Homo sapiens: one gene and its partners. The protein of the gene in region 4 purifies or fractionates together with the protein of the main gene of each other region. This does not show direct contact. Each region holds a gene or a part of one and is shown on either strand. Other genes may lie near its edges.

Region 1 (3,500 bases), on a different chromosome or scaffold from region 4:
AGAAGAGAATCTGCCAATAGGCATCTGTGACTGGGACCCACCTGAACCTGAGGGGGAGAGAGAAGGACAGGAGAGATGTGATGTGTCTGGCAGGGGTTTGAGGTGCCCAGCCCTGCACAACACAGTTGGGCTTTGTCCCCCTGAGCACCAGGCCACAGCGGGTAGTGCCATCTCCAGTACTGACCAGCCCTCCCTGCCTGTCTGCCCGTCACCCAGGGCTAGGTCCCTCTCCTCCATGTGGCTCCTCATTCTACAGCCCTTACCATAGCACACTGAAGTGTTCACCTTGTGTGTCTGTTTCTGCCTCAGTCTGGGAGTTCCTTGAGGGCAGGGACAGACATTTGTCTTTTTTTTTTTTTTTTTAAATCTGCACTGCTCAGCATAGGGCCTGGCCTCGGTGCTGAGCACTGCAGATAAGAAAAAAATTTTTTAAAAAAATTTGACAATTTTAATTTAAAAAAAATTTGACAGCCTTCCTCCCTTTGATGCAGACACACCTGTGTTCCTTTGGCACAGACATTCTGGAGTCCCAGTGCCCAGGAAAGAAGACGGGAGGCAGTAGCAGAGCCTGGGAGAGATGGCCTGAGGATGTTGTGATGGAAGACTGTATATGATCATATGCACTGCTGTCCAGGTTGGCTCACATGGGACCCTATCCCCTTCCCAGGATAACAAGAGGGTCTGCAGGAGAGGGATGGCTGTGGGGAGTGCCCTAGGAGAGAATATTTGCAGCCTGAGGGGAAGAGATGACGGGCTTTGTCTGAGGGTGTTAGAGTAGACTCCGACTCATGGAATTTCCACCCATTTAATCTGTTTTCACACACTACTTTAGTGACCTCATCTACCTCCAAGGCTTCAACTACTCAAATCTCTATTCCAAGTTTCAGACTGAGTTTTCTATTTTCTGGTTGGATATCCCCACCTTGACATCCCAGTAATTCTTTGATCTAATTTGTCCCAACAAGTCCCCAACCTGAATTCATCTTTTCCCCTAAGTCTGCAGAGCCATGTGGGGGCAAGAAGCAGAGGCAAGGAGCTGCCTGCATGTGGGCTCTGCTTCTCTATCCCTCACTCCGTCTCCTCCGCTGCAAAAAGAGGACAGCAATAGCACCTGCTGCAGAGGGGTATGTGAGAATTAAAAGCTACTAAAGAGTATCCCAAAAGTCCTAGAGCAGTTTTAAGTTTTAATAACTGTGAAAGTACAAGTACTACAAACATATAAAAAAAGCCAGCTGAGTGCAGTGGCTCTAGCCTGTAATCCCAGTACTTGAGGAGGTAGAGGCAGGAGGATCGATTGAGCCCAGGAGTTTAAGACCAGCCTGGGCAACATAGTAAGATCCTGTTTCTACAAAAAATAAAAAAAATTAGGCAATGTGGTGGTGTGCACCTGTAGTCCCAGCTACTCAGGAGGCTGAGGCAGGAGAATGGCTTGAACCTGGGAGGCCAAGGTTGCAGTGAGGTATGGTCATGCCACTGCACTATTCCTGGGAGACACAGTGAGATCCCATCACACACACACACACACACACACACACACACACACACACGAAAAAAAGCCATAAATGAAAGCTTACTTGAATTTCTTTTACACTTACTTAGTTTTGTGAAACTTGAAAAATACATTTTAAATTTTTTATTTCCGTTGGCATTTGCCATCCTTAATCAAGGTGACTGAAAAAAAATTAAAAATTTATACTTGAAAATGCACAATGCTTAATCACATGCCAAACACCTGGAAGCTCCCATCCTGTCATCTTCATTTCTTTAATATCTCTGGTTGGTTCTCCTCTTCCTTCACACAGCCCTTGGCCAACCTCCACCCTTTCTTCCTGAACTTTCTTGTTTTTTTTATAGTAGCTTCCTTATTCTTCTCTCTGCCTTGTCTAGCTGATTCAGTTCCTTGAAAATTTCTCCTCCCACTTGTGGCTGAAGCCTCTGACTTTCCCACGGCATTCTCTTAAGGCTCCACTTGCTCCCGCCCATCCCAAACTCTCCTCTCTGGCCTGGTGTTCTTGGTTCCCTTTGCCTATCCCAGCCCCCATCCCCCGGCCAGCCACCATCTGGTCTCTGCCTCTAGCTGCTTGGAACTCTTTGAAGATTTCCCACCTGTCCACTGCTACTTGCAGTACCTGTATCCAGGTCCTTTAAAGCCTACCTCACATTTATAACTATGAACAACTAGAAGCAGCTTAAAATGGCCAAGAACAGGAGAATGGTCAAATCAGCCATGGCACTTTCCCTATGGAATAGCATGTGGTCATTCAAAATGGTGTTGTATCAGACTACTTAAAAATATATAAAGGGCTGGCATGGTGGCTCATGCCTGTGATCCCAGCACTTTGGGAGGCTGAGGCAGAAGGATCATTTGAGGTCAGGAGTTCAAGACCAACCTGGCCAACATGGTGAAACCCCGTTTCTACTAAGACGACAAAAAATTAGCTGGGTGTGGTGGTGCGTGCCTGTAATCCCAGCTACTCTGGAGGCTGAGGCATGAGAATTGCTTGAACCTGGGAGGCAGAGGTTGCAGTGAGCAGAGATCGTGCCACCGCATGCCAGCCTGGTGACAGAGCAAGACTCTGTCTGTCTCTGTCTCTGTCTCTCTCTCTACACACACACACACACACACACACACACACACACACACACACACACATGAAGGGCTGGGCATGGTGGCTCACATCTGTGATCCCAGCACTTTGGGAGGTCAAGGTGAGCAGCTTGCTTGAGCCCAGGAGTTTGAGACCAGCTTGGTCAACACAGTGAAATCTCATCTCTATACAAAAAATATACAAAAATTATCGCTGCATGTTGGCATGCTCCTGTAGTCTCAGCTCCTAGCGGGGCTGAGGTAAGAGGATCCCTTAAACTCGGGTGGTCCAGGCTGCAGTGAGCTGTGATTGCACCACTGCACTCCAGCCTAGGGGACAGAGCGAGACTCCGTCTCAGACAACAACAAACCAAAAAAAAAAAAAAATACCCCACACCCACTCACAAGAAGATAGCCTTGATATATAAAGAAAATAAAACTGACTATAAAATAAAATGTACAATATGGTTCGATTTCGCCATAGACATGTGCACAGAAAAAAGACTGGGGTTCTTACAATTGACCACTAATTTTTTTTTTTTTTGAGACTGAGTTTTGCTCTTTTTCCCAGGCTGGAGTGAAGTGGCACAATCTCAGCTCACTGCAACCTCTGCCCCTGACCTGTCAAGTGATTCTCCTGCCTCAGCCTCCTGAGTAGCTGGGATTACAGGCGCCTGACACCATTTTCGGCTAATTTATGTATTTTTAGTAGAGATGGGGTTTCACCATGTTGACCAGGCTGGTCTCGAACTCCTGACCTCAGGTGATCCACCTGCCTCGGCCTCCCAAAGTGCTGGGATTACAGGTGTGAGCCACCACACCCAGCCAATTTTTAATGATGGTTATTACAGAATGATGGAATTCTTATTGATACTATTTTTCATCTTTTTGCTTATCTACGTTATCTTTTGTT
Region 2 (3,500 bases), on a different chromosome or scaffold from region 4:
ATATTTTAAGAATCATAATCAGGCAACCTGGATAAGGGAGATGGCTCTAACATGTAAGTATCCTGTGACTCTGACATGAATTATTACTAGCCAGTCTAAAACATAGGCAGAAAGAGGATAAAACTGAGTGAAGTAAAATAAATAAGAGTCTTTCTTATCTTCAATGTTTTCTTAAACATGTATTTTTTCAACTTACGGCTTTTAAATCATTTTGTATACCGATAATAAAACTTACCATAATGGTTTTCGTTTACCCATAATATTAATACTTGGGAGGGGGTTGTTTCCACTTCTCATTTGTAGGCTTTTCATTAAAATCTTGACTCTGATGCAAATAGTGTTTTTTTTTTTTAACTTAACCAAAATCTGCTCTTAATTTGATGATGTGAGAATAGCCCAAAGGTAGAATATTGTCTTGACTTATAAACTGATATACCTATTACAAGTCTAAGAAGACAGGAAAGTGGCCTTGTTCCATTATTCACCACAAAGTTGTTAAGCCAACTGTCTCAACTAGTTTAGAACTAGCACTGAAAGACAGAGTGAAATCCCAAGAGAAGCAGCCTCCAGTAGCTGTGTTTTCAGCCTCTGGTAAACTGTATTTTCTAAAAATGGCCACAGTGGTATTTTTGGTCCCAGGTGATCTTCTAGAACTCTACCATTCCACAACAAGAGTCAGAGTTTGCTTCCCTCTCCTCTCCCTTGAATCTGGGCAGAACTCTGTAAGTATTTCAACAATGAGAAGGAAGCAGAAGTGATGTCCCACAACTCCCAAGCCTGGATCACAAAAGCTGATGTGGCTTCCATCTGGCCTTCCCTCCTTCTTAGAACACTCACCCTTGGAAGCAGCTACCATGCTATAAGGAAGCCCAAACTCACCCACACAGAGAAATCAAATGGAGAAGATCTGAAACTCCCAGCAACAGCCAATATCAAAACATGTGAACAACAAGACATGTGAGTGAAGGGGCCTTGAATAGATTCTAGCCCCCTACCTTTGAGCCACCCTAGCTGATCCACAGTGGATCACAGATTAGGTAACCCTTTTGAGCCCTGCCTAGAATGCAGAGTCATAAGCAAAATAAACGTTGTTATTTTAATTGAGTTTTGAGCATAGTAACTAGAACACAGATTCAGAATTAAGTGCACTTAAGAACAAATTTCCTTTGAAACAAAATAAACTGCATATTTTGCTTCTCATTTTGATCCCCAAATGCAGGCAGAAATAAAAAATACACGTACTTCTTCCAACAGTGACGTCCTGCTGCATGACACTTATGTACAGCTGTAGGGTCAGCTGGGGGGCTGAGCCCAAGAAAGCCTGGATCACCGACGCCCGGCTGAACGCTGATCGGTGGGTGATTAGTTTGCCTTCTGCCTGGCCCACCTCCTTCTCAATCTCCTCTGAGAGGCCATTTTTTGGCATTTGCCTCTTCTTGGTGATACTGACATAAGGCTCTTCATTGTTGCCTGACTGAAAGTAGATGCAGAAGACTTCAAAACACCTGAAAACAAATCAGGAAATCATAATAATTAGAGACAGACAGGATTCTGACTTTCCATGCTCATCCTACTTACCTTTAGCCTGATTCTTAAAGCCTTGACTTGGCTACTCTGAACTATAGTCACTCTTCTAAATCAACTACTCCAAGGACCAGTTCTCAGTATGCAGTCCTCTTGATGCTTTCCAGCAGGCCAATGGGAATTGAATGAGAACCAAATGAAGAGGTAATACCAAAGGCCACTGAAGCAAGGAAATCTCTTAGAGAATGGAAAGTGGTTCCGGCTCCAGAGCCACAGAAAAAATGTGCAGTTTCCCTTCCTGACACATACTAGCTGTGTAGCCATAGCCGAGTCACCTACTATCCCCACCCCAGCACATTCCCTCCACTATAAAGCAGATATAATACCCACTTTGTCATATTGCTGTGAAAAATGGTGATTATATAGTGTGACTGCATGCATGCATGCACGCACACACGTGTGTGTGTTCCACATCCAAAAGATGCCCCAAACCACCCCAGTTAAAGCAGAAGCTATGGCTCGGAAATCCTCCAGCACAGGGCAGCTTGCCATCTAGCATTTCACTGGGAGACCACAACATGTTACCTATCTCTGTTTTCATAAGTCCTTACAGGGCGGGACTAAAGTCAGTCCCAGACTTAATCAGTGACTTTTCCAGACTGAGAGAATACCTGGCTTTTAAAATTTGGATTTCCTCTCTAGGTAAAAATATGGATGCTGAAGTGGGAAGAATACTGATGTCTGTGATTAACTTTGAAGTACATACACACACACACACACACACACACACGAATTGATAGATGGATAAATATGTGAAACAAAATGTTAATTGTAGAATCTAGGTGGTGAGTACTTGGGTGTTCACTATAGAATTCCTTAAACTTGTCTTCTGTGTGTTTGAAAATTTTCATAATAAAATGCTGGTTAAAAATGTGTTTTCCCTAGGAGTAAGAAAAATATTCATGGCCGTAGGTTTGTAACTTGTTAAAGGACTTTTTGTCCCTCCTCTAACATGCACTTTTATAACAACCTTATGATGCTGCCAGAAGATTTTAATGGCTTAATCTATTTCATTGAATGTTTATGTTATAATGTTAACTTTATACTCTCATCCTGAGGTGACTACGGCAACTGGAATGTATTTATAATTTGAAATAATAAAATAAAGCTTGATGTAAGAGAGGAAATGCAGGAACCTTTCTGGTGAGCTCAAAGTGGACATATTTTGTGATTAATACCATTGTTCATTTGTTGCTAGGAGAAAGAAGGTGTATGGTGTGTGTGGGTGTGTGTGTGGGGGGGGGTTGATTTGTGTACGACATTTTGTCCCATGGGGTCAAGAACACTTTAATATATTACATGAAAACAATGTAAAACCACACAGACCAGTTTTTTCAGTTGGAAATAATGTCAATGAAGTTCAGGCCATGAGTTCAATCCCAAGCACGTCCAATTGAATTTTCTCTGAAGGAAAACTCAAATTAATGACTGAGGACTGTATGAGGCCTAGCAACTTTACACTGTTGGACCACTGATCACATCAAAGATTAGAAAACAGAATGAACTGGCCGGGGGCAGTGGCTCACGCCTGTAATCCCAGCACTTTGGGAGGCTGAGGCAGGCGGATCACCTGAGGTCAGGAGTTTGAGATCAGTCTGGCCAACATGGTGAAACCACATCTCTACTAAAAATTAAAAAATTAGCCAGGCATGGTGGTGCACCCTTGTAGTCTCACCTACTCGGGAGGCTGAGGCAGGAGAATTGCTTGAACACAAGAGGCGAAGATTGCGCCACTGCACTCCAGCCTGGGTGACAGAGCGAGACTCTGTCTCAAAAAAACAAACTAAAACAAAACAAAAACAGAATAAACTGATAATCATCTTTATTCTCAAATATGAGATGAATGCGGGTGTGGTTTACTAAGTGCTGTGGGGAATGCAGACAGCTGGATACCCCTGCCTCATTTGGGGGCACTC
Region 3 (3,500 bases), on a different chromosome or scaffold from region 4:
TCTAGGTCTAGGGCCAGCCGCTTGGGGAAGTGATGCAGGACGAAGGAGAGGGCGCTGCAGTCGGCCGAGCAGGCGTTGCAGTAGGTCAGCTTGAGGTAGTTGGCGCAGATGCCCCTGGCCGCCAGCTGCCCCACCTTCTGGCTCTGTGTCTCGTAGATGCAGCGCAGCATCCAGATGAACGTGGGCATGGCCTGCACCTGGTTGAAGCTTTCGACCTGAACGCGGGGCAGGCTCTTCAGGTAGCCCCGCAGGCTGGAAAACAGGTGTGCCCACAGGGCCTTGCGCTTTCTCCTCAGGGCTGCCGCGGGCACCAGATGCCGCAGGAGTTTCTGTTTGGCTTTGGACAACAGCCCGCACAGGAAGAGGTTGGTGAACTGGAAGTGATCCTTGTTCTTGAAGAGGTCTTCCCGCGCCGGACCACTGCCCTGCAGGCACTGGAACGGGAGGAAGGGAGGATAGCAGGACGTGGTCGCTGCCCCCGCAGGGGGCATCCACTCCTGGAAGAACCTGAGCAGCTCCTGAGTGCCCACCCTGTCGTCCAGCACGAGGAAGAAGGCTGTAAAGAAGGCCTGGAGGGTGAGGTGGAAAAACTCATAGGACTGCTGGTCACCCCCGGGGCCCAGCTCCGGCAAAGCCCGCAGGAAGCCCAGCTGCATGTCTCTCTCCTGCAGCCCGGAGGCCTGCACCTCCTCCTGGGTGAAGACAAAGAGGCTCTTCTCCATGCCCCGGTGGGCCACCTGCCCCAGCGAGCACAGAGTGTCCCGGCCGGCGTGGAGGGTCTCCACTGGGCTGCGTGTGTTCCGCTGCACCAGGCTGCTGGGCTGCATCCTGTTCAGATGGACCTCAGTGACCAGGAGGAAGACATCTGTCAGGGTCATCGTGCAGTCGGGCAGCTGTGGTGAGCCTTCAAAGGCAGCACGGAAGTGCTGGAAGCACCGGAAGATGATCCAGCAGAAGAGGGGCACAGAGCACAGGCTGCAGAGGTTGGGGTTGGCCTCCAGCTGGCTCAGCAGGCGGTCCTGCAGGGCCCGCTCGGGGAACATCCTCCTGGCATAGGCGCGCAGGTGGCTGGGGGAGAAGCCCCGGAGAAGCACCTTCTTCCGCAGGAACTGGCGCGGGACCTCGATGCCTGTGCGGGCTGTGAGCAGCTTGCTAGCCCCCTTGAGCAGCTTCCCACTGAGCAGGTTGGCCAGCAAGACCAGGGGGTGGGCAGGCTCCCAGGGGCAGGAGCTGTCAGGCACGCGGCTCAGGTCCAAGTCCGAGTGCAGCTCGTCCAGGCCATCGAAGGTGAAGAGGGCCACGTGGGGGAAGCGCAGCAGGAAGGCAAACACCTCCTCGGGGTCCCGCTCTGGGTAGCAGTAGTGCTTGAAGAGCAGGTCCTGCAGACACAGCCTGTCACTTTCCTTGAAGCAGCTGAACATGCGGCAGCGAAAGTGGAAGAAGAATTTGACCCCTGCGTCTAGCCGGCCCGTGGCCCAGAGGCTCTGCAGCCGCTGTAGCAGCATGGACTTGCCCACCCCAGCATCACCCAGGATGAAGATGGTCTCACCCTGCTCATTGAGGATGCCGGTGGTGTGGTCCAGGAGGCAGGCCAGGCTGTTCAGGCTGCCCAGGCTCTCATTGCTGAAGCCAACCAGCTCCATGATGGTGTCCATGTAGATCTCCTCCAGCAGCAGCTCCTCCTTCTGGGCATAGCACAGCACGAACTTGGAGTCACGGCCCAGATGGTGTCGCAGCTGCTGGGTATACCTGCTCACTGGAGGGAGGGGGTGGCAGGGCACAGCAGCAGGGTGAGGAGAGAGGCAGAAACAGCATCAAACAGGGAGGTCTCAAAGAGGAGAGGCGAGTGCATAAACAAAATTCACAACCTGGGCCCTGAGGCCAGCGCAGCCACTCCTCAGATGCAGGACCTGGGGAGCGTCACAGAGCCAGCATTCCTGACCCTGAGGGCCCCAGGCTTTGATCTCTCTGCTTGACCTCAGATTTGCCAGAAAGAAGGTGACAAACTTCAGCTGGGATCAGTGTCTGAGACAGGCCACCCTTATTCCTCCGCACAGTGTCATCACTGAACTGCAGCTAAACACTGAAGCCCCTCGCACTCGAGGGCCAGGCCAGATGGCCACGCTGGCCCTCCTCCACCAACACTGCTTTTTTGTTGTTAGAGATAGGGTCCTGCTCTGTCACTCAGGCTAGGGTGCAGTGACCCAATCATGCAGTCTCAAACTCCCAGGCTCAAGCAATCCTCCCACCTCAGCCTCCCAAGTAGCTGGGACACAGGCATATGCCACCAAGCCCAACTAATTTTTGTGTTTTTTTGTAGAGACGGGGTCTCGCCATGTTGCCCAGGCTGGTCTCAAATTCCTGGGTTCAAGCGATCTGCCCACCTCGGCCTCCCAAAGTGTTAGGGAGTGTTATATATTTGTCAGTAATTTTTAGTAAGTTTACAAAGTTGTGCAAACCTCACCACAGTCCAGGTCTAGAACATCTCTACCATCTTCCCAGAGTTTTCTGGAGCCTATTTGTAGCCAATCCCTGGGCCGTAGGCAACTACTGATTTGCTTTGTCTATAGATTTACCTTTTCTGGACATTTCATATAAACAGAATCATACAATATGTAGTCTTTTGTGTGAGACTGCTTGTAGAGTGAATTACACTGTAAAAGCTAGTAAAGTAGCTGGCTAACGGAACCAACAGAGAAGTCTTTCGAAAGAATGATTCCTCATGGGAATACTTTCTTTTTTTTTCATGGGGGAAGGAAACAAGGGGAGACAGGAAGGAGCAGACAGAGTCAGAAGCTAGCAGTGGCTGGCAGGCACCTGCAGGGGCTGTGGAAGCTGGAGCCTAGCACTGACACTCTGCCGGCTGGCCTTGTTTCCCCTAAGCACACACCTGTCTTGTGCTTCTGTTTCCAACAACATATTGGATTCTTTAAAAGGCAGGACTTAGGTCCTTGGTGCTGGTATGTTACCAACAGCTGTCTCAAAGTGGAGAGTTCAAAAGCAGGGAAAGAAGACTCCTGCCCCAGAGCAGATCCTGGCCCTAATGATATGTTCTCACATGCCTTGGACTGCCGCTGTCCTGACACATTTTTGAGATTGCTGACTGGTGGTCTCTTCCAGCTGACTTGAAGCTCCCTGAGGGCAGGAACCCTGTCTGTGTCTGCTCACCACTGTCTCCCTGACATCCAGCACAGTGTAGGGTCTTGGCATGTGGTGGATACAGCAAAAAATACTTATTGAACTAATCAGTTAACTGATGGGGTCTTCCATTAGTTTGGAAATAAGGACTGGCACTCAACGGTGACAGAATACTTTGCCTAGAATCAAACCTGGCAAGGCTTTTTAATTTTTTTCTTTCCTTTTTTAGAGACAGGGTCTCACTCTGTCACCCAGGCTGGAGTGTAGGGGCACAATCATAGCTCGCTGCAGCCTTAGACTCTGGGGCTCAAGCAGTCCTCTTGCCTCAGCCTCCTGAGTAGCTGGAACTACAGGTGTGTGCT
Region 4 (3,500 bases):
TCTCCCCATCAGTAAGTAGAGAAATAAAGGCATGTGCTCATTGTTCTCATATTCCCAGTACTTATCCAGCCTTTTTCAACTGTGGGTTTCTCTAGCTGTAACTTTATATTAGTATACAAATGGCTTCCTTAGTTATCTTTAGAGACTCCCAGCAGTTATATAGTTTAACTTTAAAAAGATTATACCACTGTTTTCCAAAATCTAAATTTTAAAATATGTCTGAATTACACATGTATAGTTTATCCAGAAATATGCAGTTAGTTTCCCCGTAGTTGATATGCATCCCTTTGGGAACTCAGAAGGCTCAATTATCATATCATGCACATTAACTTCATCTTAACAGGGCAATGGGTAGGAATTAGAAGCCTGAGATCATTTAAGAAAATCTTTATCTCTCACTTCTCAATCATTTATCCATTCATTTAAATGTTTATTAGGCAGTAAATTATATGACCGGTTGTGTGGCAAGTTTCAAGCACCTATTTCTTATTTTCTTCCTTTTCACTTTCTCTAAAAATTACATCTTCAATTATTCTGAAATTCTCCCCTATTATCCATCAATAGTTGATTTAATTCTAATATGGAGAAAAATCATTAAAAACAATCTGCTTATTATCGAGAAGTTTTTATTTTCCAGTTTTCCTTAAAATTAAATTTCCATTTGAGACATTTAGTGTGAATTAGTATAATAGTATCACATGTTCTGTTATACTGTCCTCATTCAGTTAATGGAAGCAACAGTTACCTAGGATTTTCACTGCATTTGCAGACAAGCAGCAGGAGACTAATTGAATTTCTTCAAGGTCACAGGGTTCACTTGACAGAGACTTGACTATGTAATCCATTCCCTCTCCAATGTCAGACAAGTGGGTCAAATGAAATAAACACATCTTCTTCAGGTTTTTCAGGCCTTCAGCTGAAAAATGATAGAAAGGAATGCATTAGGATACCAAGTTAATTCGATTTAAGCATAGATTAATGAACTGAAAAGAAAGCAAAGAATAATTGTGCAGAGACCTTGCCATGTTCTTCCTGCAGCGACTTTAAGTTACAAAGAATCAACGAGAGCTTTTTTTCTTTCAATTCTCACTTTCCAGTCTCTTGGACCACACAAAAAATCACTTATATGGAGGTTATTCTCTTAGTAGCATGAGAAACACTGTAGTAAATTTGTAGTCTTTTTAATGGGCATCAATGTATACTCTTACCGTAATTCTTTACATGAATGAAGTCTTCTAGAGCACTCTCCTTTCAATCTTCTCAAAAATCTTAAACAGCGGGGGGGCTGAGTTCAGGGAGGTAGATGAGGACTTGGCTCCTTGGAGTGCTTCTAGTGCAACTGTCTACAGCCTCAAAAGCCTTGCCTGGACTCATGATATGGGGCCTGCCTGAAGCTTTAGAATGAAGACCACATCCACTGCAGCATGTTTAACCAGAAGAAAGATTTACCTTATATCAACAGTATAATTGGAAACATTCTAAAATATCCCCCGTTCTTAAGTCTAAAGCTAATGTGCAGTTTAGGATTGGTTAGGCCTCACTTTGTGTCATTAAAATACTGTCTTATCTTGATGGTACTGTAGCCTACGGGAAAGAAATATATGATTTTAATGACCAGGCATGGTGGCTCACACCTGTAATCCCAGCACTATGGGAGGCAGTGATAGGCGAATCACCTGAGGTCAGGAGTTCAAGACCAGCCTGTCCAACATGGCGGAACCCCATCTCTACTAAAAATACAAAAATTAGCTGGGCGTGATGGTGCACACCTGTAATCTCAGCTACTTCGGAGGTTGAGGCATTAGAATCGCTTGAACCCAGGAGGCAGAGGTTGCAGTGAGCCAACATCTCACCACTGCACTCCAGCCTGGGCGACAGAGCGAGACTCCCATCTCAAAGAAAAGAAAAGAAAAGAAATAAAATATATGATTCTAATAATATCAGTCTTGCAGAGCTTTCGGGAAGGTTGCAGATAATGTACGTTAACATATTTAATGTGGTGCCTGGCACATAGTAAGTGCTCCATAAATGTTCATTGTTGTCATGGGAGTATATACCGGTTAAAGGTTGTGAGCATGAGCTTTGCAGTCAGTTCCTGGATCCCCTACTTAATAATTATAAACTTGGGCAAGTTATTCAATCTTTTAGCTGAAGCGTTAGGGATCATTATATCTATGTACTAGGACTGTTGTGGGGATTCAATGGAATGAGGTATATAAAACTGCCGAGGCTAGTGTCTAATCTATAGCAGAGTAACTCTTTAATAAAGAGTAAATTATTACTGATATAATTAGACTGGTTTAGTCAAGTTCACATTTTGATTCCTTAATAGCAGAAGCAGGCTATCCTAGAGAGGTACTTTTTGACCTCTTTCTACCAGTTGGTAAGATCTTGAGCAAGTCAATAAGCTATTTTAGGTTCTAGTGGAGTTTTCTGTGAAATGAATGAGTTGAATTAGATGCTCTCAATCCCCTTCCAGCTCTGATTTTCTGTGTAATTTATACACATGCAATAAATGTTTATTGAACACTGAATTAATTTGATTATTCTCACGTAGGACATATAAGGAAAAGAAGTCAGCCATGTTTTGCTTTTGTTTTTGTTTTTGTTTCAAGATGGAGTCTATCTCTGTCACCGAGGCTGGAGTGCAGTGGAGCAATCTCGGCTCACTACAACCTCCTCCTCCTGAGTTCAAGTGATTATCCTTCCTCAGCCTCCCAAGTAGCTGGCATTACAGGTGCATACCACCATGCCCAGCTAATTTTTGTATTTTTAGTAGAGACAGGGTTTCACCATGTTGGCCAGGCTGGTCTCGAACTCCTGAACTCAGGTGATCCATCTGCCTCGGCCTCCCAGAGTGCTGGAATTACAGGTGTGATCCACCATGCCCAGGCTTCAGCCATGTTTGGCTTATAGGCTAGAGTTGTCTTTCGGCAGGAAGCAGAATAAGAAAGAACAAGATGAAGGGAAGAGAGGAGTATTTTAGTGAGGACTCAAGTAGGGAAAAAAAGAGCCAAAAAAAAAAAAAAAAAAAATCCAACACACGAGAAAACAGGGACATTCAAGGAAAGCAGCTTTAACAGGAATCCTCCCTGGCCTGCAGGGCCTGGTTCCCTGTGGTAAGCCATGTGTTCTGCTTGTGTTCCTGAAGTTTCCTTTTCCTTTTCATTTTTTTGATTGGGGAAACACAACCTGCAGTGTAGAATGAAAGCATGCTTCCCCCAAAGTTTTCTTGATTCACATTGTTTCCTGTGTCCTATTTCATTTATGAATTTTTTTAACTATGAAACCATAGTATAAACTTTAAAATATTGTTTCTATGCAACTATGAAACTATACTATAAACTTTAAAATATTGTTTCTATGCATTAAATAAAAACATAGCCAATGAGCCAGGGAGACGGAAGTTAAAAACACGTCAGGGGCTCTCTTCCCAAAAGGGTTACCATCTGGTGTTGTACAATTTGAATAAAATGATGCTGAAGGATTTTAATGGCAGT

Evidence for each region. The genes of interacting proteins can lie anywhere in the genome.
Region 1: the proteins of NLRC4 (region 4) and NLRP1 purify together in Homo sapiens (affinity purification with western blotting, with the first as the bait; one study listed by BioGRID). This does not show direct contact.
Region 2: the proteins of NLRC4 (region 4) and XK purify together in Homo sapiens (affinity purification with western blotting, with the first as the bait; one study listed by BioGRID). This does not show direct contact.
Region 3: the proteins of NLRC4 (region 4) and NOD1 purify together in Homo sapiens (affinity purification with western blotting, with the first as the bait; one study listed by BioGRID). This does not show direct contact.

Annotation. Positions count from the first base shown.
Region 1 is NC_000017.11:5,553,510-5,557,009, forward strand, and holds part of NLRP1 (NACHT, LRR and PYD domains-containing protein 1), read right to left. Parts: intron 1,090-3,500; exon of another isoform or gene 997-1,089; intron 635-996; exon of another isoform or gene 492-634; intron 48-491; coding exon 1-47.
Region 2 is NC_000023.11:37,692,291-37,695,790, reverse strand, and holds part of XK (endoplasmic reticulum membrane adapter protein XK), read right to left. Parts: intron 1,506-3,500; coding exon 1,243-1,505; intron 1-1,242.
Region 3 is NC_000007.14:30,451,285-30,454,784, forward strand, and holds part of NOD1 (nucleotide-binding oligomerization domain-containing protein 1), read right to left. Parts: intron 1,757-3,500; coding exon 1-1,756. UniProt on the Homo sapiens protein: Pattern recognition receptor (PRR) that detects bacterial peptidoglycan fragments and other danger signals and thus participates in both innate and adaptive immune responses.
Region 4 is NC_000002.12:32,237,387-32,240,886, forward strand, and holds part of NLRC4 (NLR family CARD domain-containing protein 4), read right to left. Parts: intron 917-3,500; coding exon 746-916; intron 1-745.